4 linked regions of the Homo sapiens genome follow. The protein of the gene in region 2 purifies or fractionates together with the protein of the main gene of each other region. This does not show direct contact. Each region holds a gene or a part of one and is shown on either strand. Other genes may lie near its edges.

Region 1 (7,024 bases), on a different chromosome or scaffold from region 2:
GGCTCACGCCTGTAATCCCAGCACTTTGGGAGGCCGAGGCGGGTGGATTGCCTGAGCTCAGGAGTTTGAGACCAGCCTGGGAAAAACAGTAAAACCCTGTCTCTACTAAAATACAAAAAATTAGCCAAGTGTGGTGGTGGGCACCTGTAGTCCCAGCTACTTGGGAGGCTGAGGCAGGAGAATTGCTTGAACCCAGGAGGCAGAGGTTGCAGTGAGCCAAGATCGTGCCACTGCACTCCAGCCTCGGTGACAGGGTGAGACTCCGTCTCAAAAAAAAACACAGAACACCAGTGTGTGCTATGTGCTAGGCAAATTCCTTAAGAAAATAAGGGGACCCTTGAATGTGCACCATTCTCTGATGTTACAAATTGAGATTAACAATCTGTCAACTGCAAGAGCTCTTAGCAGGGAATTCATGAGCAACTCTCTACTGAGGTAGTGAGCAATCTTTGCTTCCACTCTCACTCCCCTCATTTCCCTTTGTAACTCTCACTTGGCCTCCAGAAGCAATGCTTAGATATTGCCTCCTCTTGGAATCTTCCTGACTCAACCCTCCTATGTACTTCCAAAGCATTCTGCTTTTAACCCCTGAATAGCAATTATTACATTGTATGGTCACTGCTCTTGCCCTAGCACCTAGCCCAATACTTATGATATATTAAGTACTCTCATATGGAAGAGCAGTTATAATAACCAGTAAGGACTGATTTCTTCCTAAGGAATAAGAAAATATGTCCAGTAAAGGAATCTTAGTGATGAAGAAGGGCTGTTAATAATGCCAATCAGTCTTTTTTATGTTTCCCCCGAGACAGGGTCTCACTCTCATTGCCTAGGCTGGAGTGCAGTGCTGCGATCTCAGCTCAATGCAGCTTCAACTTCCCAAGCTCAGGTGATCCTCCCACCTTAAGCCTCCCCAGTAGCTGGGTCTACAGGTGCATACCAACATGCCCTGCTAATTTTTTTGTATTTTTAGTAGAGACGAGGTTTTGCCATGTCGCACAGGCTGGTCTCCAACTCCTGGGCTCAAGCGATCCTCCCGCCTCAGCCTTCCATAGAGCTGGGATTATAGGCGTGAGCCACCGCACCCAGCCTCAAAGTCTTATTATGTGTATTCACCTACATTCCACATGTTTAGATTCCCATTATATACCTTGACCAAGTTAGTCATGGAAGCACGAAGATATTTTGGTATTATTGCTAATAGCAAAGGATCACGGGACAGGATTTCATGCCTGAAGAGGGCTCCCCAAGTCATCTGAGTTGAAGAGCGTAGAAACTAAAGAGAAAAAAAAAAGAAAACGTCAAAGGATTTGGATTCTATATAACCCAGATTATTACTTAGCAGTTATCAACTACATTTTTTCATAGAAATAAATCTGTACAATACTTTGAAGCTGTCTCTACTGCAATTTATCAGTAATGACCACCCACTATGGACCACATGTTAGTAAGACAGGCTGTGGATCAAGGAAATTACCTGGAATGTGAGCTGAATTTTACTACTTTCTCTTCTTTGCAAAAAAGGATACTGGAATCTCAGAGTGATATTAGAAGGACAATTTTGAACAGAGTGAAATTAATTTTATAATACAATTAATCAGACTTTTGTTTCAAAAATCTTTATAACTTTAGTACTAAACCACCTGGGACACACCTCACATGTGACTGAGTACAATCAGAATATTACCTAAAGGGAAAAGCTGCTGACCTAGACAAGTGCACTGTTTGGCTCAGGAAGAAGAGCCAATAATTCTCTTAATGAAATGACACTACGGTCATTCCCCAAGGCCTGAAGAGTCACATTTTATACATGATCTACAATAATATTTCAGGACACAGTGCTTGACATTGGTTCACCTAACTAAACTTTTGAGAAGTTACCTGTATAAAGTTTACCTGACTTGGATGGGTTGTGAAAGCAAGAAAAGATTCCAGGTATTTTCCAAAGTTTGATGGTGTTTCTACATCAGAATCTGCACCCTGTAGGAGAAGACCACTATATTAACGGTGTTGATCGAGAAAAGCAGGAGAGGAAAAAGCAGGGAAGTAATAAAAACAGATAAATTAAACCCTCAAAAAATGTTGTTTCAAAAGGACTTTGTATTTCCTTTTGGCTAAAGAAAGGCATCACTTCAAGGGCTAAAATATAGGTTACTTTGCCTACTCAATCATCATCATTACTTTGCCTACTCAATCATCATCATTAAAACCCATTCTGTGGTCAAACAGTAAAATAAAAAACACTCATTTCAGAAATTACAGAAAGAAAAAAAATCTGTATTACTTCCTCAGACCTTACCTATTCACATCTCTGTGTCCCAACCTATTACCTAATCCCTTCAATAGTTTCTTTTCTTTTTTTTTTCTTTTAGATGGAGTCTCACTCTGTTGCTCAGGCTGGAGAGCAGTGGCACGATCTCGGCTCACTGCAACCTCTACCTCCAGGGTTCAAGCAATTCTCCTGCCTCAGCCTCTCGAGTAGCTGGGATAACAGGCATGCACCACCACGCCTGGCTAATTTTTGTATTTTTAGTAGAGACAGGGTTTCACCATGTTGGCCAGGCTAGTCTCAAACTCTTGACCTCAGGTGATCTGCCCACCTCACCCTCCCAAAATGCTGGGATTACAGGCATGAGCCATTGCACCTGGCCCCCTCAATGGTTGCTTATCTCTGAAACTATCCTCTCTAACCATTTAAACCACCACAAAAAGATATAACATCAATTGCAAATGTCTGTTCCAATGTCCTATCTTCCAACTTATAAGACTGAGTATTAAATATTTCTCTAATGGCAGGTTTTCCAGGTCAATCAGACTCAAGTTTTCTTTTGTGCTCCAATAATACATCCCTTAGATTGGGAAAAGAGTTCTTTATTCAAGTCCATGTTTCGTGGGCTAACAGAATGTAAAAGCATAAAGCACTCAGCAGATTGAGGTTCTGTAAGTACCAAAATTCACAAGAAACCAACGTTGACTTTATGGAATAATAGACGTGGATATCTGACGTTGGTATAACTATTTTATTGTTAAAAGAAATTTAGATCACTCAAACACTATTCTATTAAGATAATTTAATCTATAGAATCATGCAATAACTTGTATGGCACTGCCCCATCAGGCTAAAATCAATGACATTTGCAACCCCTCATTGAAACATAAGTTTCTAAATGCTCTTCCCAAATGGGCTTGAAGCTCTCCAGAAAGCAAACACTAGCTCACCAGCAATGCACACAGCTGATTGCCCAGCGCACACAACACCTGACAGAGCCTCTTCAGAAAGACGTAGTGTTTTTCTACCAAACCTCCTCCATCAGCAGTCCTGTAAGATGAGAATTCCTTATATCACCAACAAAATTAAAAAGGCTGTAATAAAAACATCACTTTGTGTCTCATTTCTCCAAGTCATTTAGTTAGGTCTGTAATTCAGCAGAATTCCAATAGCTTTGCTAAATTAAAAATTTTTTAAAATCTTTTTAACTTATTTGGTGGCAAAACCTGACCTAAAATGATATAGGACTATTCACACAAACAGCAATTAATAACTATGAGTGTGAAAAGCAACTATATTAGCTGTCTTCTGGAGGAGGACAGTATCACATAAAAGGCAAGGACCTTGGGGTAAACGAGGCCTAGGCTTTAGGAACATTGAAGGACAGGATGGTATTATGGTGTCCAATGCAATCTCTGGAGTTTGACTACCTGGGTTGGAATCACCGCTTTATGAACCATGGTTGTGGTATGGCACCCACAGCACAAACAGAAACGGGACACCACTTAGTATGAGTGTCATGATGTCTATGGAACTAAGAATTGGACCTAAAAATAGTAACTACCCAAAAAACGTTATTCATTTAATTAACAGGATCCCTTAAAACAGTGCTGCAGTCTCTACAGGGAAGGAAGCCATGAAAAATGTGTATTAGAATGGGTAGTAAGAGATTTTAAGTAAAACACATGTGCCTCATACCTTTTCATTTCTCCTTGGGACCAAAAGTAAAGAGTATCAAAAAGATGGTGTTGCAACAGATTCAACTACTTATAATATATAGTTCTGCCTGACTTCCTGGTAAGAAACATGTTATCAAGAAATGCTTTAATATTTTTTCTTTTTTTTTGAGACACGATCTCGCTGTCACACCTAGGCTGGAGTACAGTGGCTCAAATATGGCTCACTGAAGCCTCAAACTAATGGGCTTCAAGGGATCCTCTCACTGCAGCCTCCCAAGTAGCTGGGACTATAAAGCGCATGCCACCATACGCAGCTAATTTATTTTCATTTTGATTTTTTGTAGGGATGAGGTCTTGCCATGTTGCCCAGACTGGTCTTGAACTTCTGGGTCCAAGCAATCTTCACGGCTTGGCCTCCCAAAATATGGGGATTACAGGCATGAGCCATTGGGCCCGGCCTTGCTTTAGTATTTTCTAGAGCAACTGGAAGAAAGTACATGGAAGCCCTTACAGTCATGCATCACTTAACGACTGGGGATGTGTACTGAGAAATGCATCGTTAAGTGATTTTATCACCATTTGAACATGATAGAGTGTACTTACACAAACTTACACAACAGGAATAGCCTATTACACATCTAGGCTATATAGCATAGCCTATTGCTCCTAGGCTACAAACCTCTATAGCATGTTACCGTAGCCAATACTGCAGGCAACTGTAACACAATGGTAAGTATTTGTGTATCTAAATACAGAAAAGGTACAGTAAAAATATGGTATAAATGATAAAAGATGGTATACCTGTAGAAGGCACTTACCATGAATGACTGCAGGACAGAAAACTGTACTGGGTGGGTCCAGAGTGAGTGGTGAGTGAATGTGGAAGCCTAGGACATTACTGGACCCTACTGTAGACTTTATAAATTCTGTACCCTTAGGCTAAACTAAACTTATTTATTTATTTAGAGATGGAGTCTCACTCTGTTGCCTAAGCTGGAGTGCAGGGGCACAATCCTGGCTCACTGCAACTTTCGCCTCCCAGGTTCAAGCGATCTCCTGCCTCAGCCTCCCAAGTAGCTAAGAATACACACATGCACCACCACGCCCGGCTAATTTTTGTACTTTTAGTAGAGATGGGGTTTCACCATGTTGGCCAGGCTGGTCTTGAACTCCTGACCTCAGGTGGTCCATCTGCCTTGGCCTCCTAAAGTGCTGTGATCACAAGCATGACCCAGCGTACCTGGCCCGCTAAATTTATTTAAAAAATTTTCCAGCCGGGCACGGTGGCTCATGCCTATAATCCCAGTACTTTGGGAGGCTGAGGTGGGTGGATCACCTGAGATCAGGAATTCAAGACCAGCCTGACCAACAGGGAGAAACCCTGTTTCTACTAAAAATACAAAATTAGCTGGCCATGGTGGTGCATGCCTGTAATCCCAGCTTCCTGGGAGGGTGAGGCAGGAGAATCGCTTGAACCCGGGAGGCAGAGGTTGCAGTGAGCTGAGATCGCATCATTGCACCCCAGCCTGGGCAATAAGAGCGAAACTCCATCTCAAAAAAAAAAAAACTTCCTTTCTTCAATAATGAATTAACTTTAGCTTACTGTAACTTTTTAACTTTATAAACTTTTAAAAACTATTTTTTTGAGACAAGGTCTCAGTCTGTTGCCCAGGCTGGAGTGTAGTGGCATGATCATGGTTCACGATTGCCTGGACTTCCCAGCTCTAGTGACCCTCCCACCTCAGCCTTCTGAGTAGCTGGGACTACAAGTACACATACCACCACACCCGACTAATTTCTGTATTTTTTTGTAGAGATGGACTCTTGCCATGTTGCTCAGGTTGGTCTCAAACTCCTGACTCAATCAATCCTCCCGCCTTGGCCTCCCCAGGTGCTGAGGTTACAAATGTTAGCTAGCACATTCAGCCATGACTGCCTCATTTTCTCTCTTTTTTTTTTTTTTTTGAGACAGAGTCTCACTTTGTTGCCCAGTCTGGAGTAGAGTGGTGTGATCTCAGCTCACAGCAACCTCTGCCTCCCAGGTTCAAGATACTCTCCTGCCTCAGCCTCCTGAGTAGCTGGGATTACAGGCGTGCGCCACCAGGTCTGGCTAATTTTTGTATTTTAGTAGAGATGGGGTTTCACCGTGTTGGCCAGGCTGGTCTCAAACTCCTGGCCTCAAGTGATCCACTTGCCTTGGACTCCCAAAGTGCTGGAATTACAGGTGTGAGCCACCACATCTGGCCAATGCCTCATTTTCTTATCCAAAAACACTGTCGATTGACAGCTAGCATTTAAGTAAGAACTTCAGGTGGGCACAGGGGCTCACTCCTGTAATCCCAGCACTTTGGGAGGCTGAGGCAGGTAGACCACCTGAGGTCAAGAGTTTGAGACCAGAGCGGTCAGCACGGCAAAACCCTGTCTCTACTAAAAATAGAAAAATTAGCCAGGCATGGTGGTGCGCCTGTAATCCCAGCTACTCGGGAGGCTGAGGCAGGAGAATCGCTTGATCCCAGGAGACGGAGGTTGTGGTGAGCCAAGATCGCGCCACTGCACTCCAGCCTGGGTGACAGAGCGAGATCCATCTCAAAATAAAAAAAAAAAAAAGAACTTCAGATAAATCCAAATAAGATAGAAAAATGACAAAGAAATTAGAAAACACACTGAAAAGTAAAGATACTCACTGTGCGGCGGAGAGTATATAATGCATGGCAACATCTCCAAATAAGACCATCAAGGGCTTCCGGTCTTCCAACTTGCCCTAGACCCAATTTTAGGGAAACATAGTCATATAAACTATACTTCAAAGTACCGACATCTTCTGTAAGTATATAATCAAATATATTGACTTCATAATTTCTTATATACCCCAGGGTTTAGTGAAACACTAGAAAGAAGCCCAACTCTTTAAAACCAAATCTGGATAAACTACATATTTTTTCTCAAAACTATCAGTTTAGTGAAAAAGCATAAACTTACATTTTTAAATGTGTTCGGCAGGCCGAGTGCGGTGGCTCATGCCTGTAATCCCAGCACTTTGGGAGGACGAGGCAGGCGGAACAACTGAGATCAGGAG
Region 2 (7,096 bases):
TGATAAAGGAGTTTGCTGGGGCTGGAGAGAGAACTGGATCCAGGAAGAGGAAGCCAAGAAACTAAGGCTCCTCCAAAGAAACTGGTTAAAAGATTCCAGCCAGTCCATGCTACTCTGCCTCAGTTTCCTCTCTAGGAAGTTTGGAAGTGGTCCACGACCCTTAGGAAACCTAAAAGAAATCTCCCCAAGGCAGATGGGTGGTCATCATCAGATTGCTCCCTGCCCTCTACTCTCTTCCAGGATATCAGCAGTATATTCAGCTTGAGAAATACCCCCAGGATCATGCAGCCACAGACTGCAGAAAGACAGGCAGGAGGGAACAATACAGGAAGCCAAGGAAGAGACAGGGAAAGGTATAGTGGTTTGTGTCATACCCCTAGTCATGGAACGGATAATACGGGTGTGTGGGATTTAGAGACCAGATTTGCCCAGGTCTCCAGTACCCTCTTCCTGATGCCCTGGGCCCTTACCTTGAACCATGCTGCCAGGAGAAGGTGTAGGAAAAGTTCCAAGACGCACCCAGTTGTACACTGGCTTAGGAGCCCCCTCGGAAGAGCTGCATCTCAGTGCAGTAGAGCCTCCCACAGAGGTTTGTCCACTCTGACTGCATAAGGGATTACTGGGGGGAACTGCAAAAAAAAAAAAAAAAAAAAAAAAACAGAAAGTTCCTCAGCAATCTTCCAGCCCCACTCCCAACTCCATTAGGTGCTACATTCTCTACTTCAATACCCCTATCAAACAGTGGTCCTCTTGGGTCCACACACCACTGCATCCCCAGGAACTGAGGGATTTCCACTATTGGAAATTCTGATTGTTAGAGAAAATTCTTCTTCATGTTGAGCCAAAATGTGTGTTAACATAACCTCCACCCATTGGTTTCAGTTCCTGCCCTTTGGGCCCACAAAGAGAAATTAAAATCTCTCCTCCACATGACAGCCCTTTGGATAGTTGAATCCAGCAGTAATACACCCATCCGAGGCCTTCTCTTTTCCATCTAAACACTGCCAGTCTCTGTGATAGTTTTTCTGGTTGCTCATCTCTGAAAAGGCTCTAGTTTGGGGTGAGACAGAAGCTCTGAGCACGAAGTTGGTGCTCAGTAATAGGGGCCCTTGTTCCTTTGGTGGCCACTCCCCTTCTCTGCCATTGACCTTGGGAGGGACAGAATCCAACTACCGATGAGAGCCTCCCCCATGATGGAGCTGCTGGGAGCAGGCTCAGATCCCCATGTATGGGAAGGACTTTCTCTCACACACTCTGTTATTAGGCTCTGATGGAGGAGATGCTCTCGGTGGAGGGTGGAGTTGGAGTATGACCATCTGAATTAGAAGACTTGGAAAGGGAGTATTTTCACTTGGGGCCCCCAGTGCAGTTGTGTGCTTGGGCTAAAAGTCAGAAACCAGAGATTTAGCAAGACCAGTGCAAACGCCCCAAGTATGTGAAAGAGTATGTGGCTCGTGGATCCCCAGTCTGCCTTACCCAGCACAGTAAGGTTGATTAGCCCCAACCCATTGGTGTAGAAATCTGGTGGGTTGTTGACTTGGCAGAGGTAGGTTCCAGTATCTGAGGGGTGGACGTCAGTCAGTTTCAGTGTGGCCACCCCCACTGTGGGGGGGTTCTGAAGCAGGCTGACCCGCTTTGACTTAGAACCAGTTGGATACAGATGGCCATTGGTGAAGTACAGGATCTGGGGAGAGGCAGAAGACACACATATGTGCCTGTTTCTGCCTGGCATCAACTCTACAGTCCTTCCTCATCAAAGTGGGTATAAGAGGCCTCTGACTTACATCAGCCAGGGAGGCTGATACCCTTAAGCTGGAACTCCAAAGGTCTCTCTGTCCCCAAACACCACCCCCTTTCAGGTGCTAAATGAACCTGATCCATTGGTCTCTCTCTCTCTCTCTCAAAGAGAGAGGCAGAAGAGGCAGCATATTATCTTGGTATCAGTCACAACACCTTAGTGTCAATGGATACACTAAGGCAGGGGAGTTGGAAATAGGAGCTATGGAAGAGGAAAGGAAGATACACGGTCAGGCAGACTGCAGCTCTGAAAAGATCTAGGGAGAGCCCACTTACCTTTTCATCCAAGCATACTGATCCCCAAACTCCCCCTCCCGACCCCATGCCCTCATCCTGGGCTCCTGTCCCTCCAGGCCAACCCAGCTTCATGCAGTCGCTCTCAGCTCACTGGATGGGACTCAGAGATGGGTTTCCCAGGCTGCACAAAGCTCCACTCCAGGGCGAAGCTGTCTCCCACCGACGTGCTGTAGGTGCAGGTCAGCTCGGCTGTCTTCCCCAGGGGCGTGCTCAGCGGCTCTGTGGGTACCTTCACCTCCACGGCCAGCCCTGGGGCCGGGGACCAGAGGGAGGTGGGAACCCAAATTCCAGTGATCTGGAGGGTCGGGCCCACCCCCGGGCATCTATATTGGAAGCTGGGGGCTCCCTCCCCAGAGCACAACCCTCTCCCCTCAATCCAACCCCTCCCTTCCCAAAACCTGAGGTTTCCGGGAGGGGCCGGGTCTTTGTGGGTAAAAGAGCCGGAACCGGGCCAGGTAAGAGGGTGTGTGTGTTTAGCAGAGAAAGGAAAACACTAGCCCTGCGGTGGGGTGGTTCAGGCCTGTGCCGCGGAGAGGCCCAACTCGCTCGCCGGCTTGGGGGTCTCTCTCCTACGCCCTCCGGGCCTTGGACACCCCCTCTCCGGCCTCACCTCAGGCGCCTTAGGGCCCCTGGCGCCCACGGCAGCCTCATCTGGCCTGGCGGGGACAGAGTGGGTCCGAGGAGCCGGGGAAGCCAGGCCTATGCCCCCCAGCCCTCGCCGTGGTCCCGCCCGGCCCCTCCTCACCACTCAGGCACAGGAAGCCTAGCAGGGCCCCGCAGAGAAAGGGCCCCGGGAGCTCGGCCATGGCCGCGTCCGGCCGTCCTGTCCTGCTCCTGCCAGGTGGGCGGTCAAGGTCGGTCTGGGTGTCGGGCAGGGAAGGGAGCACCCAAGGGCAGCCGCCCGGGCTGGGCAGGAGCGAGACTGGTATCTCAGAGCAAACAGGGGAGAGGCCGGCGCCGCAGGTTAAAAAAAAAAAAAAGTGCTCCTCCCTCCTCTCCTCCAGCCCCGATTCTGCAATCCCTCTGTCCCTTCTTCCTCCTTCCTTCCTCTTCTCCCCAAGGTCTGAAGCTGTCCGGCCTTGGGAAAAGCGCTGGGCTTGGGGTGGGCCTTCTGCAGAGACGGAAGGAAAGCTGACTTTGGAAGGCGTCCTGATACCCCAGAGCTGGCAAGGGGAGTCCCCACCTCGGAGCCTCACTGTGAGTGTGAGCCCCAGGCCGCAGACCCTTCCTGTCCACAGCGCTTTTCATTTCACCACTTACTGAGGTAGGAGTCTCTGTAGAAATGAGCATCTCTCCATTTCCAGAGCCACTCCATTTTAGGGGCAGAGAAACTGAGACCTAAAGGAGACCTCACCCTTGGTAGGAAAGAACATGGCAGAACTTGGACACAGACCTGCACCTCATACTATGCCCAGCTCTCCCTCAGTAACAACAGAGATCTCTTCCAGATGGGCAAGGAGTGTTTTGTTAAGGATTCCGTGGTGTGGGAGAGGAGCCCACGTGAGCTTCCTCTCCCCTGTCCCTGAAGAGGAAGCAGATGAGGTACACGTACCCCCTAGCCGGGAGCACTCAAGCTCCAGCAGAAAGCGTATCAACTCCATCCCTCTGCTGTTCAGAGTAGCTTAGAGTCTCCTCCCCTTCTCCACGTGACAAACAAGGACCCTTCTAAACACTAGAAGAGCTGCTCTAAGCCTGTGGGGGGAAGCCCTCCTGGGTACACAGCTTGGGAAGGGGTCCACTTTGCATCCTCCTGAAGCTCAATTTCAAGAATTCTTAGTTTGAAAAGGCAACTTGTTTCTTATCTCATACAAACATTATGTATCTTTATTTAAATTTGCAAATGAAAACAACACATATTTCATGTTAGTTTTAATAAGAGATTCCCTATCCTCTGCCCCAGTAAAACCTAACCAAGCCAGCCTGACAGGTTATATCAATACAGGGAGCTGGAGTGGGAGCCAAGGGTGGTGTTAGATAGGGGTGGGGTACAGATCAAGGGGGCCTGGGAGACTCAGTGACTGGAAGTCTCTGCCCCTCACTCTTGGTGAGTAGCTAATTTCAGCAGCTGGCTTCATAAGGAGGAGTCAGGGGTGGGTGGAGGCTCCTCCCAATTCCAGATCCACTTCCTCTTCTCCTTCTGTCTCCTGGACACTTAGGTCTTACTGAGATGGTTTTCCCACAGTAAAGAGAGGTGGGGGCAGAGTACTAAGGGTCAGGAGTGTGACTCTTTCCCATGACTCAGGCCTCTGTGCTAGAGGTGACCCTTATAGGAAGGAGAGACCCCAAATCCTTTAGCCAATGAGTGGTGGGGTCATCATACCAGAGAGCCAGCTTGACTCTGGGCAGGCACCATCACAGGCACAGCACCCATGCGGCTCAAGCCAGAGGAAGAAACCCCACCAGGGATGGGGGATATTGGTTGAGGGTGGGCCCCATCTGTCGTGGGCAGTCTTGGTGAGGGCAGGGCCTGGCTGGAGAGACTGGGCGTGGGGGTCAATGCACCAGGCCTGGGAGGGCCATGGGGTGGCCGGAGGGCTCGTGCGGAGGTGACAGAGGAAAGGGTCCCATTCTTGGAGATTGTGTCTGAGCTCTTGGGCCAGGGCAGGGTCCGGGGAGCAATGGCATCCTCCCTAGTCATCAAAGAAATAACAAGAGGTCAGAAGTGGGTGGGGGAAGGAGGAGAGAGTTTCTACCTGCTTGGTCTTATATACCACCTCTGCCTGCACACTTCAGTACTCCTTTCCCTCTCCCTTAAAACCTGCCCATAGGAATGATGTTTCAGCCACTGACCCCATCCCAATAGATGAGAGCTGCCTGAATTCCCAGCCTCTGTGAGGAGAGCTGGGAGAGCCCCCGCTGCAGCAGACACCAGGGACACTTACTTGATATCATTGGCTGGCTCCTCCAGGGCCTTGCCCCGGCGGTGGTACAAGAGGACCAGCCCAGCCAGCAACCCCAGTCCAACCAGGGTACCCACAACAGCTCCAGCAACCACTGCAGCTCCAGGCCCTGGAAAAGGCGTCGTGTCAGAGGAGGACACCCAGCTGAGGGGTTCTCACCCCTCTCCAATCCCACTCTCCCCACCCCATCTGCCACCATACACATTCCCTCTTTTTCCCTGTCAAGAAGAGGGGTGGCTGTTGAGCAGGAAATGACCAGTCACTGACCAACCATTTGTACAAACATTTGATCAGGGGAAGCTCCGTGCCCTGCTACAGAGACAGGCCTCAGCAGACAGGCCTCCTCCCCACTTGCAACCCCTCCCCCACCATTGACCACTCTTCTTAACCACACTTACCCCTCACTGACCTGTGCTCACTTCCAGCGTCACATTACATTGGGCAGTGCCCACCTCATTGTGGGCCTTGCAGACATAGACTCCAGCCATGGAAGACGAAAGGTTGGTGAGGCTTAAAGACCCACGGATGACATCTGTGGACACAATTTAGCCATCAGTCCAGGGACCCTCTTTCCCATTAAAAAAAAAAAAAAATCTTGTCCCTCCTCTGGAATGTCCCCTTTGACCCTCTGGGAGTCACGGCTTGTCTATTCCCTGATGGGGGGAGAGGTGTGACAGCTGGGCTTGGCTCCCAGCTGCAGACTGACTAGTGCAATAACCTCCATTGTCACTCCTCAGTCAGTGCCCCCAGTGGATATCCGACAGGAGGCCACAGAGAAAGTGAAGCACAGAGAAACCAAAACACCATTTTACTTTTATTTCGGCAAGACAGTGTGATGAGAGAGAAAGAACACTGGGGTAGGAACTGGTAAACGTGGGTTCCAGAACAGGCCATGTGACTGACTTTAAGCAAGTTAGTTGATATCTGAGGGTCTCCATTTCTTCATCTGTAAAATGGGGACAATATGACCTCCCTGAGGGTGTTGAAAGGACTATATGGACTAATCATTATAACAGTGAATGTTTAGGGGGGAGGGATAGCATTAGGAGATATAGCTAATGCTAAATGAAGAGTTAATGGGTACAGCACACCAGCATGGCACATGTATACATATGTAACTAACCTGCACATTGTGCACATGTACCCTAAAACTTAAAGTATAATAATAATAAAATAAAAATAAATAAATAAATAAATAAAACAGTGAATGTTTATTGGCTGCTAACTCTGTGCCAAAGACTGCTCTAGATTCTTGATGTGTATGAACTTACCACAATTTCCCAACAAACCTGTGAGGTAATAAGTAGTATTTTTAAAAAGAAAAAGCTACTATTATAAAAATGGTCATGTGAAAAGTAGAAAGAGGCAAAATGAAAATCCATATTCCCACAACCTAGATCCAACAGTTGCTAACTTTTTGCCATATTTATTTGATTTCTTTCTTTTACTTAGATATTTTAAAGTAAATACATCAGCATAAATCTCCAAAAAAGCAGTACGTCGTTCCATATGACCACAATAGCATTGCCACGCCTAGGAAATTAATAACGTAACTATCTAAAATCATCGAATACTTCATATTAAAAATGTTTCAGTTATCCCTAAAATTTTTTTTTATAACTGGTGTGTTCAAGTCACACTAATGAGTTCAAGCTGATATGTGTAAAATCCGCATTTTACAAATTCAGGAAAGAAGGCACCGAGTCACACAGCTAGTCACTAGAAGAGCTGGAATTTGAACACAGACACTCCAGCTGTAGAGCCTGTTTCATAACAGTATACACATGTGAATGCACCTAACACAATACCTGCCCCTGGCAGGGCATCTTTCTCTGCCCCACATCCTCCCCACATCCTCCTCCTCCTCCCCAGTGCTTGTCAGCCTTGGCTCCCCTTTTCACCCCAGTCCCTGTGGTACCTCTCATCTTTCCCCTTCCCCAGCCACAGTGTCCACTGTTTCCAGTAGTGTCCTCACCTAATGCTGGTGCAAAGAAAGTCTGGAAGGATGGAAGCTGCCGATCCCACTGGTATTGGACAGCGGGCTTACTCCTTGGAGACTGGCAGCTCAGGGTCACGTTTGCCCCCACATGGGGCACACCCTG
Region 3 (7,413 bases), on a different chromosome or scaffold from region 2:
ACCGAAGGATGAAAGGATATATGAAATGCAGCACATACTCACAATGGAATTCAGCTTTCAAAAGGAAGGAAGCTCTGACACACGCCACCACACGGATGAAGCTTGAGAACACTGTGCCATGTGAAATAAGGCAGTCACAACAGGCCAAATACTTCATGACTCCACTTACATGAGCTACCTAAAGTAGTCAAATTCATAGAAATAGAAACTAAAGTAGGGCAGGGGAGAGACTGAAAAAAGACGGGTACAGGTTGTTTTGGGAAAAAACCTTTGGAGATATATGGTGGTGATCGTTGCACAACAATGTGAATGTTCTTAATTTCACTAAACTGTACACTTAAAAATGGTTAAAATGGCTAATTTTAATTATGTATATTTTACTACAATTAAAAAACAAAACTTAAGTATATTGAGGCCGGGCGCGATGGCTCATGCATGTAATCTCAGCACTTTGGGAGGCCGAGGCGGGTGGATCACCTGAGGTCAGGAATTCAAGACCAGCCTGACCAACATGGTGAAACCCCATCTCTACTAAAAATACAAAATTTAGCCGGGCATGGTGGCGCATGCCTATAATCCCAGCTACTCGGGAGGCTGAGGCAGGAGAATCACTTGAACCCGGGAGGCAGAAGTTGCCGTGAGCTGAGACTGCACCACTGCACTCCAGCCTGGGCAACAACAGCTGAACTCCATCTCAAAAAAAAAAAAAAAAAAAGCATTACTGAAAGAATAAATGAAGGAAGGAATGAGTGCTACTTTCATTAGCCACTAAATGTTATACCTCATACCTCTAGATTACTCTTTAGAGAAATCCTATCCCCAAATTTCATAGTTGAGGAAATTGGAACTGAGAGCTTAACTGATTTGCCACAATTCATACTGTGTAATATATATGTTAAAATACATAGACTCAGCTGTGCACGGTGGCTCACGCCTGTAATCCCAGCACTTTGGGAGGCTGAGGAGGACGGATCACTTGAGCTCAGGTTCAAGACCAGCCTGGGGAACGTGGTGAGACCTCATCTCCACAAAAAATTAGCCAGGCATGGTGGCACTTGCCTGCAGCCCCAGCTACTTGGGAGGCTAAGGTGGGAGGACTGCTTGAGCCCAGGAGGTCGAGGCTGCAGTGAGCCATGAACGTGCCACTGCACTCCAGCCTAGGAAACAAAGCAAGACCCTGTCTCAAAACAAATAAAAATAAAACACATACACTATACGTATAGCATATACTGTACGGTGCTGCTCAGCATTAATGGTGTACTTTACCCAGCTGGTTGTAAGCTCCATATCTCAGGACCTACACACTACCCACAGGCCCCTTGAATGTTTCGAAAATTCCACAGGCCTTAAGGTCTGTATCACAAAAGATGCAGCTATGTCCCTTTCTCTATTATACCACTAACTTGGCAGGGGTAAAATGGGTGAAACTGAGGAGAACAGCTCCACTCCTCGAGGTGCTCAACCACAGGCTAGGTGATCCAGTACTTACCAAGGGCTTACTATGTGCCAGGAGCTGGAGCAGATAAGGGTTCAAACAATTTGGTCTTTGAAGGAGCTGTGTATACCGCAATAGACAGATAAGGCTCAGAAATAATTACAAGAGCAAAAAGGCAAATGCTTAACAAAGAGATGTGGGTACACACATTTAGGGGAGTATTGAAAGTATCGGTCTAGAAAACGTGGAGATGTGGATACACAAAGAGATGTGAGTACACACATTTAGGGGAGTATTGAAAGTATCGGTCTAGAAAACGTGGAAGGTAGCTTCAGCAGAGATCAGAGCATGTAGAATAGCAGCCTCAGTGTCAAAAGATCACGACCATTCCTGACTTTGCCATCACCTGTGCAAGTGACCTCTGTAAATCGCTCTGTTTCCTCATATATAAACCTACAGCTAGATGAGATGTTTCTCCTACAATCACCCAGCTCTCTAAGTGTATTAGAGATGCCTAGGTTCAAAGTCAGATGCCTAGGTTCAAATCTTAACACTGTTAAAAAGTCGCTTGACCTTGAGCTGGGGAATTAATTGCTCCGTGCCTCAGTCTCCCCACTTCCGAACAGAGGGCTGGTGTGATCATTAAATACTACTGCACTGTCAATCACTTCGCGCAGGGCCTTGGCAAGTAGTAAGCCCTCAATAAACGATAGTTATTATCCGGAGGAGCTGCAGGAGGCAAACACCAGATGCAAGGGTTGTGCCTGCTGCGCTCCCAGGGCCCTCCCAGGCCTGAGCCATCATCCCTGGGGGGATGGGAGCGCAGGGCCGGGGCTGCACACTCTGCACGCATGTGTCACCGGCCAGGCTCCGCACGCGCCTCTCCCCGCCATGGGGAGAGCAGCGATGGCTCAGCAGCCCCGGGGCCCATTCCCACCCTTCCGGTAGGGCACCCCAGGAGGGAAGGGGGCTCCAATTCCACTTACCATGCTGGCCGGGGAGGGGGCGGCTCAGATGAGCTGGTTCTTGGGCTTCGGACACGTCCCGCTCGCACAGTTCAGGTCATGGTCCCGGCAGACTCGGGAAGTCCCCCACCCATGCAAAGACAACCCCTTCCCCACCGGGCCCCGAGGGGACCCTCTAAAAAGGGCAGGGCCGCCCGGGTCGCCTCATCGGGGGACCCCGAGACAATTCATCCAGACCCACCCGCCCCTCCCCAAGGAAACTGAAAAAGCAGGAAATGAGGCTCGGATGCCGGCGAGGAGGGCAGCTGCTCGGGACCCCCGCCCGGGCCCGACCCCCGCGGGGGAGGCTGCGGGCCCAGGCAGGGGCTCCCCGGCCTCCGCGGGCAGAGGTGGCGGCGGCCCCGGCCCCGAGGCTGAACGGGCGGAGGCTGACAGGCCTCGACCGCGCGGCCCAGGCGGCCGGCTCAGGGGAGAGGCCCGGGGGCCCGCGCTGTCCTCGCAGCCTCAACCCACACGGCCACTGCCGCCGCCCCCTAGAGCATCCTTGCGCGCGCCCGCCCTGGAGCCGCCCGCTAGTACCGCGCGGCCGCCCCCGACCAACAGCCCCAACGCGCCGGAAGTGGCGAGCGCCGGGCGGCCCCACAGCGCGGCCGCCGGGCTGCGGCGCTGGAACCGGACCAATCCGGAATCGAGCGGGGCGAGCGGGGGGAGCGGGCGGAGGGCGGAGGGCGGGGCTGCACCTGACGGCTCCCACTGGCCCCGCCTTCTTACCACGCCCTCTCTTGCCCCGCCCCCTGCGCCCACCGCCCGTGCGTCCACGCGGGCCGGCAGCCATCTTGGTAAAGGGAGCCCGGGCTGCCATTTTAGTAAAGGCGTGGTTTCCCTTTCGCTTTTTTCGCCCATTCATTCCGCTAAAATTTTAGTGAGTGCCTTTTACGGGCGGAGCATCGAGCTGGCAGCGTGACGACACGCGGCCCTATGGAGCTTACATTCATGCAGTCCACACACTCTTGCCCGACTATATTCCAGGCCCTGCTGTGGATGCTAGGACAGGGGAGATAAACGTAACTTCGATAGCCAAGGTGCTGAGAGAGGCAGAGAATGTGTTGGATTCCTGTTCCCATCCTCCAATCCACTTTACTCGTGAAAGTGCTCATCTTTATTTTGTTTTATTTTTGGGGACAGGTTCTTGCTCTGTTGCCCAGGCTGGAGTGCGGTAACACAATCATGGCTCACTGCAGCCTCAACCTCCTGGTGCGCCACCATGCCCAGCTAAATTTTTTTATTTTTTGCAGAGGTGAGGCCTCCTTTTGATGCTTGGGCTGGTCTGGAACTCCTGGGCTCAAGCAGCTTTCCTGCCTCAGCCTTCCAAAGTGCTGGGATTACAGGTATGAGTCATCCAGCCAGGCTGAAAGTGCTAATTTTAAGAAACAGTCAGGAAACTATCCCAAACAGCTGAGGTTGAGCCCGCGGGTGTGCCTACTACATAGATTGGAGCAAATCTATGTAACCCAATGGCCCTTGTCAACCTTAAATAACGAGATTGAGAAAATAGTATTTAAGTATAGGGTTTATTCAAGCCCGAAGCTTGAAGATGGCCCACCAGAAGTATAGTCCAATTAGTGGCAGTTACAAATGGGGTTTCCTTGTTTGTTTGTTTGTTTTTAAGACAGGGTCTTGCTCTGTCGCCCAGACTAGAGTGTAGTTTGTTGTTGTTGTTGTTTGAGACGGAGTCTCGCTTTGTCGCCCAGGCTGGAGTGCAATGGTGCAATCTCAGCTCACTGCAACTTCCGCCTCCCGGGTTCAAACGATTATCCTGCCTCAGCCTCTCGAGTAGCTGGGACTACAGGCACCCACCATGATGCCCGGCTATTTTTTTTATTTTTAGTAGAAACGGAGTTTCACCATAGTGGCCAGGCTGGTCTTGAACTCCCGACCTCAGGTGATCCGCCAGCCTCGGCCTCCCAAAGTGCTGGGATTACAGGCGTGAGCCCTCCCGCCTGGCTTCAAGTGGGTTTCTAAGGAAAAAAGAGGCATAACATAAGGTTGAATAGGAATGATGAGAAAGGGGGAAAAAATAACATAAGCTATTGCCTATACATTGTTCTTTGTATCACAAATTTCAGGAACCTGAAGGAAATGGGGGAGGCAGCTAGTCTGGAACAAAATATCTTTAAACAATTGTCCCCGAGCATGTGGAGGTGGGAGTGTGCCCGAACTCCCATACACAAGTCTCAGTGGACCTGACAAATTTTGCATACTTCACATAACTCAGACTTCCCTGAGCTATTTTTCTTTCCTGTCAAACCTCAGTGTGATCTGAATCAATTCACCCAGAAGGACTGTTAAAACAAAGATTACTCGCTCCACTCATAGACTTTCCCATCCAGTAGGTTTGAGATGGGGCTGAATAATTTGCATTTCTAACAAGCTCCCAAATGAAGCTGATGCTGCAGGTCTAGATACCACATTTGGAGAACCACTGATACAACACTTTACCACTGAAAGCAATAGCTTTCAGGGGTTTTTTAGTTTTTTGTTTGTTTGTTTGTTTGTTTGTTTTTGGAGAAAGGGTCTCACTCTGTTGCAGTGACATGATCATGGCTCACTGCAGCCTCAAACTCCCAGCCTCAAGCACTTTTTTTTTTTTTTTAATGAGACAGAGTTTCGGTCTTGTTGCCCAGGCTGGAGTGCAATGGCATGATCTCGGCTCACCGCAACGTCCGCCTCCTGGGTTCAAGCAATTCTCCTGCCTCAGCCTCCCAAGTAGCTGGGATTACAGGAGCCCACCACCGCACCCAACTAATTTTTTGTATTTTCAGTAGAGACGGGGTTTCACCATGTTGGTCAGGCTGGTCTCAAACTCCCGACCTCAGGTGATCCACCCGCCTCGTCCTCCCAAAGTGCTGAGATTACAGGCATGAGCCACCGCGCCAGGCCATCAAGCACTATTTTTTTTTCTCTTGAGAGGGAGTTTCGCTCTTGTTGCCCAGGCTGGAGTACAATGGTGCAATCTCGGCTCACTGCAACCTCTGCCTCCCAGGTTCAAGCAATTCTCCTGCCTCAGCCTCCCAAGTAGCTGGGATTACAGGCACCTGCCACCACACCCAGCTAAATTTATTTTTGTATTTTTAGTAGAGACGGGGTTTCGCCATGTTGGCCAGGATGGTCTCACCTCCTGACCTCAAGTGATGCGCCCACCTCGACCTCCCAAAGTTCTGGGATTACAGGCATGAGCCACCATGCCCAGCCTCAAGCACATTTATTTTATCAAATCTTTATTGTTGTCCACTAAGTGACAGTCACTATTTCAAGGATTCAATGCTGAGCAAAACAAATATATGTGTGCCCTTATGGAATTTAAAGACAAATTATTTGTAAAATATTGTACAATAATGGATCAGTTATTGTGATAAGAGCAATGAAGGAAAAATTGAAACTAACATGATATAACTTTAATATAGTTTACACGCTAATAAGGCCAAGGGATCTAAAATAATCTGGCAGATTAGGATGGGGAGGAAGTCAGGAAGTGACATTTCTTTAAGCTTTGGCCTTAAAGAAGCAGGAGTTTGCTAGGCAAAGAGAGGGGGCATAGAACATTCCAGGCAGTAGAAACAGCATGTACAAGAGAAGCCATCTCAGTAGGTAAGCTGATGAATCGGAATGGAGGCCAAGTCACTTACTTGGCTTAGTTTAGTAGGATGAGTGAAAGCTTTGGGTTGAGACTCATTTGGAGTGGAATCCAGCTCTTAACTTCACTAGCTAAGGTATCTTGAGTTATTGACTCTCGAAGTCTTGGTTTCCTTACTGTAAAATTGAATGAGATAACAGAAATGCAACTGACTCACTTAAGGGTATGCCTTTGGGTTACATAACTGGACTTCCAGAGATTCATTAGCTTTTGGCTGGGTGTGATGGGAGGCCTAGATCCATTCCTCTAGGATTTTCTTTTTTTTCTGTGTGTGGTTTTGTGTGTGTTTGTTTGTTTGTTTGTTTGTTTTGTTTTGTTTTATTTTTTTGAGACAGGGTCTCAGTCTGTTCTCCATGCTAGAGTGCAGTGGCGCAATCACAGCTCACTGCAGTCTCGACCTCCCAAGCTCAAGCAAGCCTCTCACCTTAAACTCCCAGTTAGCTGGGACTACAGGTGTGCGCCACTATGCCCAGCTGATTTTTTTTTTTTCAGCAAAGACAATGTCTCACTGTGTTGCCCAGGCTAGTCTCCAACTTCTGAGCTCAAGTGATCTGCCCACCCCGGCCTCCCAAAGTGCTGGGATTACAGGCATGAGCCACCACGCCCGGCCATTCCTCTAGGACTTCCTTGCTCTGCTCTTCTCCATTATCAGACTTGTTGTCAAGGTGGTTGCCAGGAACAGCCAGGGCCACAAAATTCCCTGTTCAAATCCAGCAAAAGAGAGCACCTTTTGGCCGGGCACAGTGGCTCACACCTGTAATCCCCAACACTTTGGGAGGCCAAGGTGGATGGATCGCTTGAGGTCAGCAGTTTGAGACCAGCCTGGCCAACTGGTGAAACCCCATCTCTACTTAAAAATACAAAAATGAGGCTGGGCATGGTGGCTCATGCCTGTAATCCCAGCACTTTGGGAGGCCGAGGTGGGTGGATCACCTAAGGTCGAGAGTTTGAGACCAGCCTAGCCAATATGGAGAAACCCCGTCTCTACTAAAAATACAAAAAATTAGCCAGGTGTGGTGGCGCATACCTGTAATCCTAGCTACTTGGGAAGCTGAGGCAGGAGAATCGCTTGAACCCGGGAGGCGGATGTTGTGGTGAGCCGAGATTGCACCATTGCACTCCAGCCTGGGCAACCAGAGCAAAACTCCATCTCAAAAAAAAAAAAAAAAAAAATTAGCTGGGCATGGTGGCAGGCGCCTGTAGTCCCAGCTACTCAGGAGGCTGAGGCAGGAGAATTGCTTGAACCCAGGAGGCAGAGGTTGCAGTGAGCCGAGATTGCACCACTGCACTCCAGCCTGGGTGACAGAGTGAGACTCCAT
Region 4 (7,024 bases), on a different chromosome or scaffold from region 2:
TTCGGGAGGCTAAAGCGGGCACATTACTTCAGTCCAGTAGTTTAAGACCAGCCTGGGCAACATAGTGAGACTCTGTCTCCAAAAAAATAAAAAAAACTATCTGGGTGTGGTGGTGCATGCCTGTAGTCCCAGCTACGTGGGAAGCTGAGGTGATACAAACACTTGAGCCCAGGAGGTTGAGGCTGCAGCGAGCTATGATCACACCACTGCACTACAGCCTGGGTGACACAGCAAGACCCCATCTCAAAAAAAATATAAAAGTGATAATATTAATGAAAAGGGATGAAAAGATCACATTCTGAGACTTTTAAATTTTTCTTTGTACAAAGATAATGTACAACTGCAAGTGTGCACACACAAATGCCAACATATAGCACTTGCCTATTTTCTTCCAGGATTTCAATTAAACTCTTCTGCAGAAAATGAAGCACTGAAACAAAAAGAATATGACAAATAAGAATTTAAAACTGTGAAGCTCAATTTCAATAAAATAAAATATTTTATATCACTGTTATCCAAAATGATATCATGATATGGAAACAAAAATTTAAAAGGAAGGGTCATGATGTACCTAAGTTATCTACAATGCTCTACCTATTACCAAGAAACTTAAAAGAGCCAGTTCCAAAATGACTCATACAAGCCATCAACTCATGGAACAAAATAAAATAATAGGACTTACCATTTTTAAGCAGATTATTAACACTTGCTCTACCTGTAGAGGAAAAAATGAACACTGGTAAGGAGTTTCACGACCAAAATCAATGTCATTTAAAAACTATGATGTGATGAGAGGGGTTAGCCAGAAAAAGGACTAGAAAAGTGCAGCCTTACCCAAGTTAAAGTTCTCCATACAGGAAGAAATATTGTCAGTAACTTTCCTGTAAGAGTATAAGTCAGTAGTATTCAATTCTTCCTGAAGACGAGAAGTAAAACGGTGCATAGCCTCAGGTAGAAAAAAATCAGGCAGGCTATTTAGTGAGCTAGAAAAAGAAACAAATATTAAAAATCTGACAATCTAATAGCCCCAGAATATGTGGAGAGGGAAGAGAATCATACAAATGTGGGAATACTGAACTAAATCTTCAAAATACAGCCAGAAAACTACAACTACACACTACCATCACTCGAATTTCCTGGCTTGTCAGCACATCTGGTCTCCCTGCTTCCACCTTGCTTCTCTCCCATCTCCCAGATTATTCTCAACAGAACAGGCAGAGTGACACCGTTAAAACACCATGTCACTTCTCTTACTAAAACCTCCAACAATATCCTTCTCGGTTAAAGTACTAGTTGAAGTGTTTACAGTGACCTACAAGGTCCTCCCGATACAATCTGGCACTACCATTAGCTCCTGACCTCATCTTTATTTATTTTTTTTCTTTTCTTGATTTTTAAAATGGCATCTATCACAATCCTGACCTCATCTTGATCTTTGTTCACTTAGCTCTAGCTACATGGCCTTGCTCTGTTCTGACATACCAGTCTTTGCTTCTGCTGTTTCCTCCATCCAAAATACTCTTCCTTCAAATATACCCAGCAATCACTGCCTCATCCCTTTCAGGTCAATCTCAATTACCTTATCATGTCTGAGCAAAGCTATATGAAGTGACCATAATATTTTAAATTGTAACCCTCACCCCATCCTTTATGTCCCCTTTCCTTCCTTCCCGCTTTTAGATAGCACTCATGCCATCTAATATCCTATAAATGTTACTTATTTATTTTGTCTATTTTCTATCTTCCCCTTAGAATGTAACCTCCATTCTGGACTGTTTCATTCATTCTACCCCCAGTTCCTAGAAGAGTGCTGAAACACAGTAGGCAGTCAATAAAAATTTATCAAATGAGTAAATTAAACATATCAATTTTGCCTCAATTTATATACATCAAAACTGATTGGCTTTGTTTTAAATATAACTGGACAGTTCAAAGTTTTTCTGGAAGAAAATAATTCAAAAATGGGAATATTCAGAATAAGAAGAGTCACTAGAGGGATGACTTAACACTGACATATAATTAAAACACTTTATCAAACTATAGTAAATAAAAGTGTGGTGTTGGTGTATGAATAATTGGACCTAACTCAGAAATCAAACCCATGTATATATGTGAACATATAACACAATAAGGTGGCATTCCAAATATGTGGGCAAAGATGGACGATTCAACAGTTTGGGTAAGTGGTTCCCCATATAAAAAAGAAAACTAAATTGAATCCCTACCTCACACTACATTCAAAGCTTAATTCCAGATGGACATAAAAGTTGAGCAAAAAAAAAAAAAATAGTATAAGGCCTGCAAATAATGTTTTAAATAATCTTGTATTACAGAAAGCACATATAGCAAGGTATAAAACTCAGAAATCTACATACACAAAAATTAGCTGAATTGATAACCAAAATAATATTTTAATTTTTGTAAAGACAAGACACCATGAGAAAGTTAAAGACAAGTAACAAAGGAATGTATTTGGCATATGATCTATAGAGAAGTCTTATAAATCAAGAAAACATTCTAACAAGAAAATGTACAAAGAATATGTAATAAAAAAAGTCAAATTCCACACATTAAAAAATGTTCAATTACACTAGTAATCTGGGATACACAAATTATAATGATAGCATTTTCCTTCATTAGATTTTAAAAGATTTAAAGATTGATAGTATCCAATGTTGGAAATATATGAAGAAGAAACAAGCATTCTAATTCAATGGGTAGTCTGGGGGAGTACAATTTAACAATATCTACCAAGAATTTCAATAGGCCTAATTTTTGGTCCAGAAATTCCACTTCTTGGAATTTATCTCAGAGAAATACACATATATAATTATATACATAAGAATATCACTGCAATGGGGAAGTGATTAAATTACTTTATACCATGTAATATAAATCATGTAATATGTACCATATATAGATACATACATGTCATATATATGGTACATTTAAATTTTGGTATATTCATATTACAGAATATTTATAGCTGAAAAAGTAAGGACTGCTGGTGGGAATGTAAAATGTTGCATATGGAAAACAGTATGACAGTTGCTCAAAAAATTACAAATAGTATTACCATATGGTCCAGCAATCCCACTTCTGGGTATATATCCAAAGAACTGAAAGCAGGATCTCAAATAGATATTTGCACACCCATGTTCATAGCAGCATTATTCACAACAGGCAAGCAGTGGAAGCAACCCAAATGTCCATTGAAAGATGCATGGATGAAAAAAATGCAGTATATGCATACAACAGAATATTAAGCCTTATAAGAGAAGAAAATCCTGTCATATGCTATAACAGGGATGAACCTTAAGGACATTATGTTAAGTGAAATAAGTCAGTCACAAAAATATAAATACAAATATTACACTAATATGAGGTATCTAAAGTAATCAAATTTATGAACGGAAAGTGGCTGCCAAGGGCTGAGCAGGAAATGGAGAGTTGTTACTTAATGTATACAGTTTCAGAGCTTAGCAGATGACAAGGTTCTAGAGATCATTGCACTGCAATATGAATACACTTAACAATAGCGAACTATGTACACTTAAAAATGGTTAAGACTCAAACATCATATGTTCTCACTCATAAGTGGAAGCTTATCTATGAGGATGCAAAGGCATAAGAATGATACAATGGCCTTTGGAGACTCAGGGGAAAGGGTGGGAAGGGGGTGAGAAATAAAAGACTACAAATTGTTGGGTACAGTATACACTGCTCAGGTGATGTGTGCACCAAAATCTCAGAAACCACCACTTATTCATGTAACCAAGTACCACCTGTTGCCCAAAAACCTATCGAAATGAAAATTAAAATTTAAAAAAAAAGAATTCATAAAAAAAAAAGGTTAAGACTGAGTTTTTATGTTATATGTCTTTTACTACAATTAGGATTTTATGACATGGAAATATCTCTAAGACATTCTTTAGTGAAAAAACAAGCTACAGAGCATTCTGTAGAGTATAATCTCGTTTACAGATATATATAAAAAAAGTAGAATGTAACACACATATGCTGACCTCAAAGAGAAGGTCTAGAAAGATAAATACCAAAACGGTAAGTGACAATCTTTACTAAGAAAAGTAAGATAAGCCCTAAACAATGAAATGGAAGCCTTAGTTTTTATTTTGTATAGTTCTATATCATTTGAAATTTTTATACCAAGCCTATATTCCTGTGTTATCTGTGTAAATATATATTTAAACCAAGAACAGATAGGACAAAAAGAGGAAAAAACAGCAAGATGACATTTAAACATAACCAATAAATGTAAATGGATTGAGGCAGGAGTAAGCAAACTACAGCCCACAGCCTGTTTATTAAGCATGTGACCTAAGAAGGCTTTTTATACTTTTAAAAAGTTGTAACTAGGCTGGGCGCAGTGGCTCACACCTGTAATCCCATCACTTTGGGAGGCTGAGAAGGCGGATCACAAGGTCAGGAGATCAAGACCATCCTGGCTATCATGGTGAAACCACATCTCTACTAAAAACACAAAAAATTAGCCGGGTGTGGTGGCTGAGGCAGGAGAATGGCGTGAACCCGGGAGGCAGAGCTGACAGTGAGCCAAGATCGCACCACTGCACTCCAGCCTGGGCGACAGAGCTAGACTCCGTCTCAAAAAAAAAAAAAAAAAAAAAATAGTTGTAACTAATCAATGAAACAGAGAACAAACCATATGAATGAACTTTTTGTGATCTGTATCAGTTCAGTTTTATCAAACCAAGGAAGGAACTTCAGTTACTTTTGGTCAAATTCAACATTTATAACACCCAACTTCCCTTCCTTTTTTTCTTACCTTGCCAATACTTTCTTCAAGGGATTCTTTAGACTCAAAGAAAGATAAATGCCTGCTAAGATATCCAAACAACTTTGAATAGTGGGATCACACATGCCATTTTTATCTGCTTTCTCCAGCAGAGGCACAATCTATAATACAAAACATTGAAGTAATTTTTATAATATCAAATATAGCAAAGTAACATGGTTACAGATACTCTTTGAAGTCTCAATTGCTGGGTACAGTGGCTCACCCCTGTAATCCCAACACTTTGGGAGGCTGAGGTGGGCAGATCGCTTGAGCCCAGGAGAGTTCGAGACAAGCTCGGGCAACATGGTGAAACCCTGTCTCTACAAAAAAATACAAAAATTAGCCAGGCATGGTGGCACATGCCTGTAGTCCCAGCTACTCAGGGGGCTGAGGCAGGAGGATTGCTTGAGCCCAGGAGGTTGAGGCTGTGGTTGAGCCAAGATCACACCAGTGCACTCCAGCCTGGGTAAGAGAGTGAGACCCTATCTCAAAAAAATAAATAAAACAAAGTGTCAATTACGTGAAATGTTTTCCATACTCCACTGTCAAGGATACTGATTTAAACACCTATTTCACTATTTATTAACTTTTTAAACTCATGTCCCCACCTCCCTCTTTACCCTCCAGACCCACCTCCACAGAGAATCACAGACCTGTTAATGGCTTACAGTAAAGAACAGCTGTAGCACTATTAAAAAACCAGTAATACATTTACTTGCTTTCCAAAAAAAAAAACTATGTGTGCTCAAATGGTAAATCCTAATACTGAAATACTAATAAGTATAATCTTTATATTTTAAATTAACTTTTAAATGTGTCTGCTAAAAAGTTTTGAAGATTCATATATTTTAAAATTTATCTCCACAAAAGAGGTATGCACATTATCTTCTACCTTATCTGTTTACAGTTCAATTATGATAGAAGTCTGAATATGGCTTCTATTGCTGCTTTGAATACAAGGATATTATACAATAAACAGAAAAAAAAAAATACTTATTTGCTAATGATAAACTGATATGCAATAATTAGGGACCAAAAACTGTCAGTGATTTTTTTTAAATCCTTAATAGCATGATACTCTTAAAGATGCATCCATGAATATCAATTCAGACTTACCTGTTTAATATAATGGATTTGTGACACTCCATCCGTGAGTTGCACACAATGTAACAGCAAAGAAGCTAGATTTTTCCCTTCCACATCAGCAAAAGCTATATAACATATACAAAAAAAAATTTTCAATGATTTAACAGTGAGTTAACTTTGCCTTTGTTGTGCATTCTACAAAATTTTTTAATTATAAACCATAGCAATAGGTGGAACATAGTCTGAAGACAGAATTTTAAGAAAATTGTTTTACATCCAAAACATAAGGAAAAATATAAAGAATTTGAATATTATATGCTAGGGGTCCCAGTCATTAAAATACTCTGCTTGCAAACTAGAAAAAAATATAATAAGGGAAACCAGAAGTCACCTACATTTCAAAGTTTCAAGGTCCTGATGGCAAATGGTCAGCGCAGCAACTTGCATTTCTTTCTTCTTCTTTACACCCATTTTAAATAGAATTAATAGTAGTCACTGCAAGAAAGAAGACTTTAAGGCATTAATGTAAGGTTTCTCAACCTCAGCACTATGATTTTTGGCTGGGTTCATTCTTTGTTGAACAGTATCATCCTATGCATTATGTTTCATGCATCCCCATCTCTACCCACTAGATGCCAGTGGCACCCTCCTCCCTCCCAAGTTCTGACAACCAAAATATGTCTCCAAACACTGTGAAGTGTCCCCTGGGGAGCAAAACTGCTCCAGAATGAGAATCACTGTCTAAGAATTTCTGATTTGAAGAAGAAAAATGTTTTAAGCTGAAGCTTATTACTGACTGAAGTTATTTTACCTACTATGACTCAGTCTTTGTATTTTAAAATACAGCAAACTTTCCTTTTAGTGAACATACACACAAAAAAACTGGGATAGTTTTTCCAAAGATAAAATACTTCAAACTAACCTCAGTGACTCATTAGACTAAGAGGAGGTACTACCGTGTCCTGATTTCTGCAAAAATGAAAAAAAATATTTTTTTAATGCTATTCTCTTGAGTTTGCTTTTATCGATACTTAACAAATCAACGGGTTCATAACAGGCTAAACAACCCAACTCAGAGACTACACAACTACACACTAATAGTACCATGCCATCTGGAAAGAA

Evidence for each region.
Region 1: the proteins of VSIG2 (region 2) and XPO5 purify together in Homo sapiens (affinity purification with mass spectrometry; 3 studies listed by BioGRID and IntAct, with this or other methods). This does not show direct contact.
Region 3: the proteins of VSIG2 (region 2) and XPO6 purify together in Homo sapiens (affinity purification with mass spectrometry; 3 studies listed by BioGRID and IntAct, with this or other methods). This does not show direct contact.
Region 4: the proteins of VSIG2 (region 2) and THADA purify together in Homo sapiens (affinity purification with mass spectrometry; 3 studies listed by BioGRID and IntAct, with this or other methods). This does not show direct contact.

What each region holds. Positions count from the first base shown.
Region 1 is NC_000006.12:43,559,028-43,566,051, forward strand, and holds part of XPO5 (exportin-5), read right to left. Parts: intron 6,710-7,024; coding exon 6,633-6,709; intron 3,381-6,632; exon of another isoform or gene 3,320-3,380; coding exon 3,220-3,319; exon of another isoform or gene 2,373-3,219; intron 1,981-2,372; coding exon 1,897-1,980; intron 1,277-1,896; coding exon 1,151-1,276; intron 1-1,150. UniProt on the Homo sapiens protein: Mediates the nuclear export of proteins bearing a double-stranded RNA binding domain (dsRBD) and double-stranded RNAs (cargos). XPO5 in the nucleus binds cooperatively to the RNA and to the GTPase Ran in its active GTP-bound form.
Region 2 is NC_000011.10:124,749,238-124,756,333, forward strand, and holds the start of VSIG2 (V-set and immunoglobulin domain-containing protein 2 isoform 1 precursor), read right to left. Parts: upstream 3,019-7,096; 5' UTR 2,901-3,018; coding exon 2,840-2,900; intron 2,344-2,839; coding exon 2,186-2,343; intron 1,685-2,185; coding exon 1,477-1,684; intron 630-1,476; coding exon 471-629; intron 1-470. Other genes in the region: ESAM (endothelial cell-selective adhesion molecule precursor), read right to left, coding at 4,409-4,724, 4,977-5,103, 5,404-5,526, 6,970-7,096.
Region 3 is NC_000016.10:28,208,945-28,216,357, forward strand, and holds the start of XPO6 (exportin-6), read right to left. Parts: upstream 3,022-7,413; 5' UTR 2,425-3,021; coding exon 2,422-2,424; intron 179-2,421; exon of another isoform or gene 43-178; intron 1-42. UniProt on the Homo sapiens protein: Mediates the nuclear export of actin and profilin-actin complexes in somatic cells.
Region 4 is NC_000002.12:43,586,020-43,593,043, forward strand, and holds part of THADA (tRNA (32-2'-O)-methyltransferase regulator THADA), read right to left. Parts: intron 6,872-7,024; exon of another isoform or gene 6,825-6,871; intron 6,398-6,824; 5' UTR 6,374-6,397; coding exon 6,298-6,373; intron 6,028-6,297; coding exon 5,933-6,027; intron 4,936-5,932; coding exon 4,805-4,935; intron 984-4,804; coding exon 835-983; intron 716-834; coding exon 683-715; intron 431-682; coding exon 382-430; intron 1-381. UniProt on the Homo sapiens protein: Together with methyltransferase FTSJ1, methylates the 2'-O-ribose of nucleotides at position 32 of the anticodon loop of substrate tRNAs.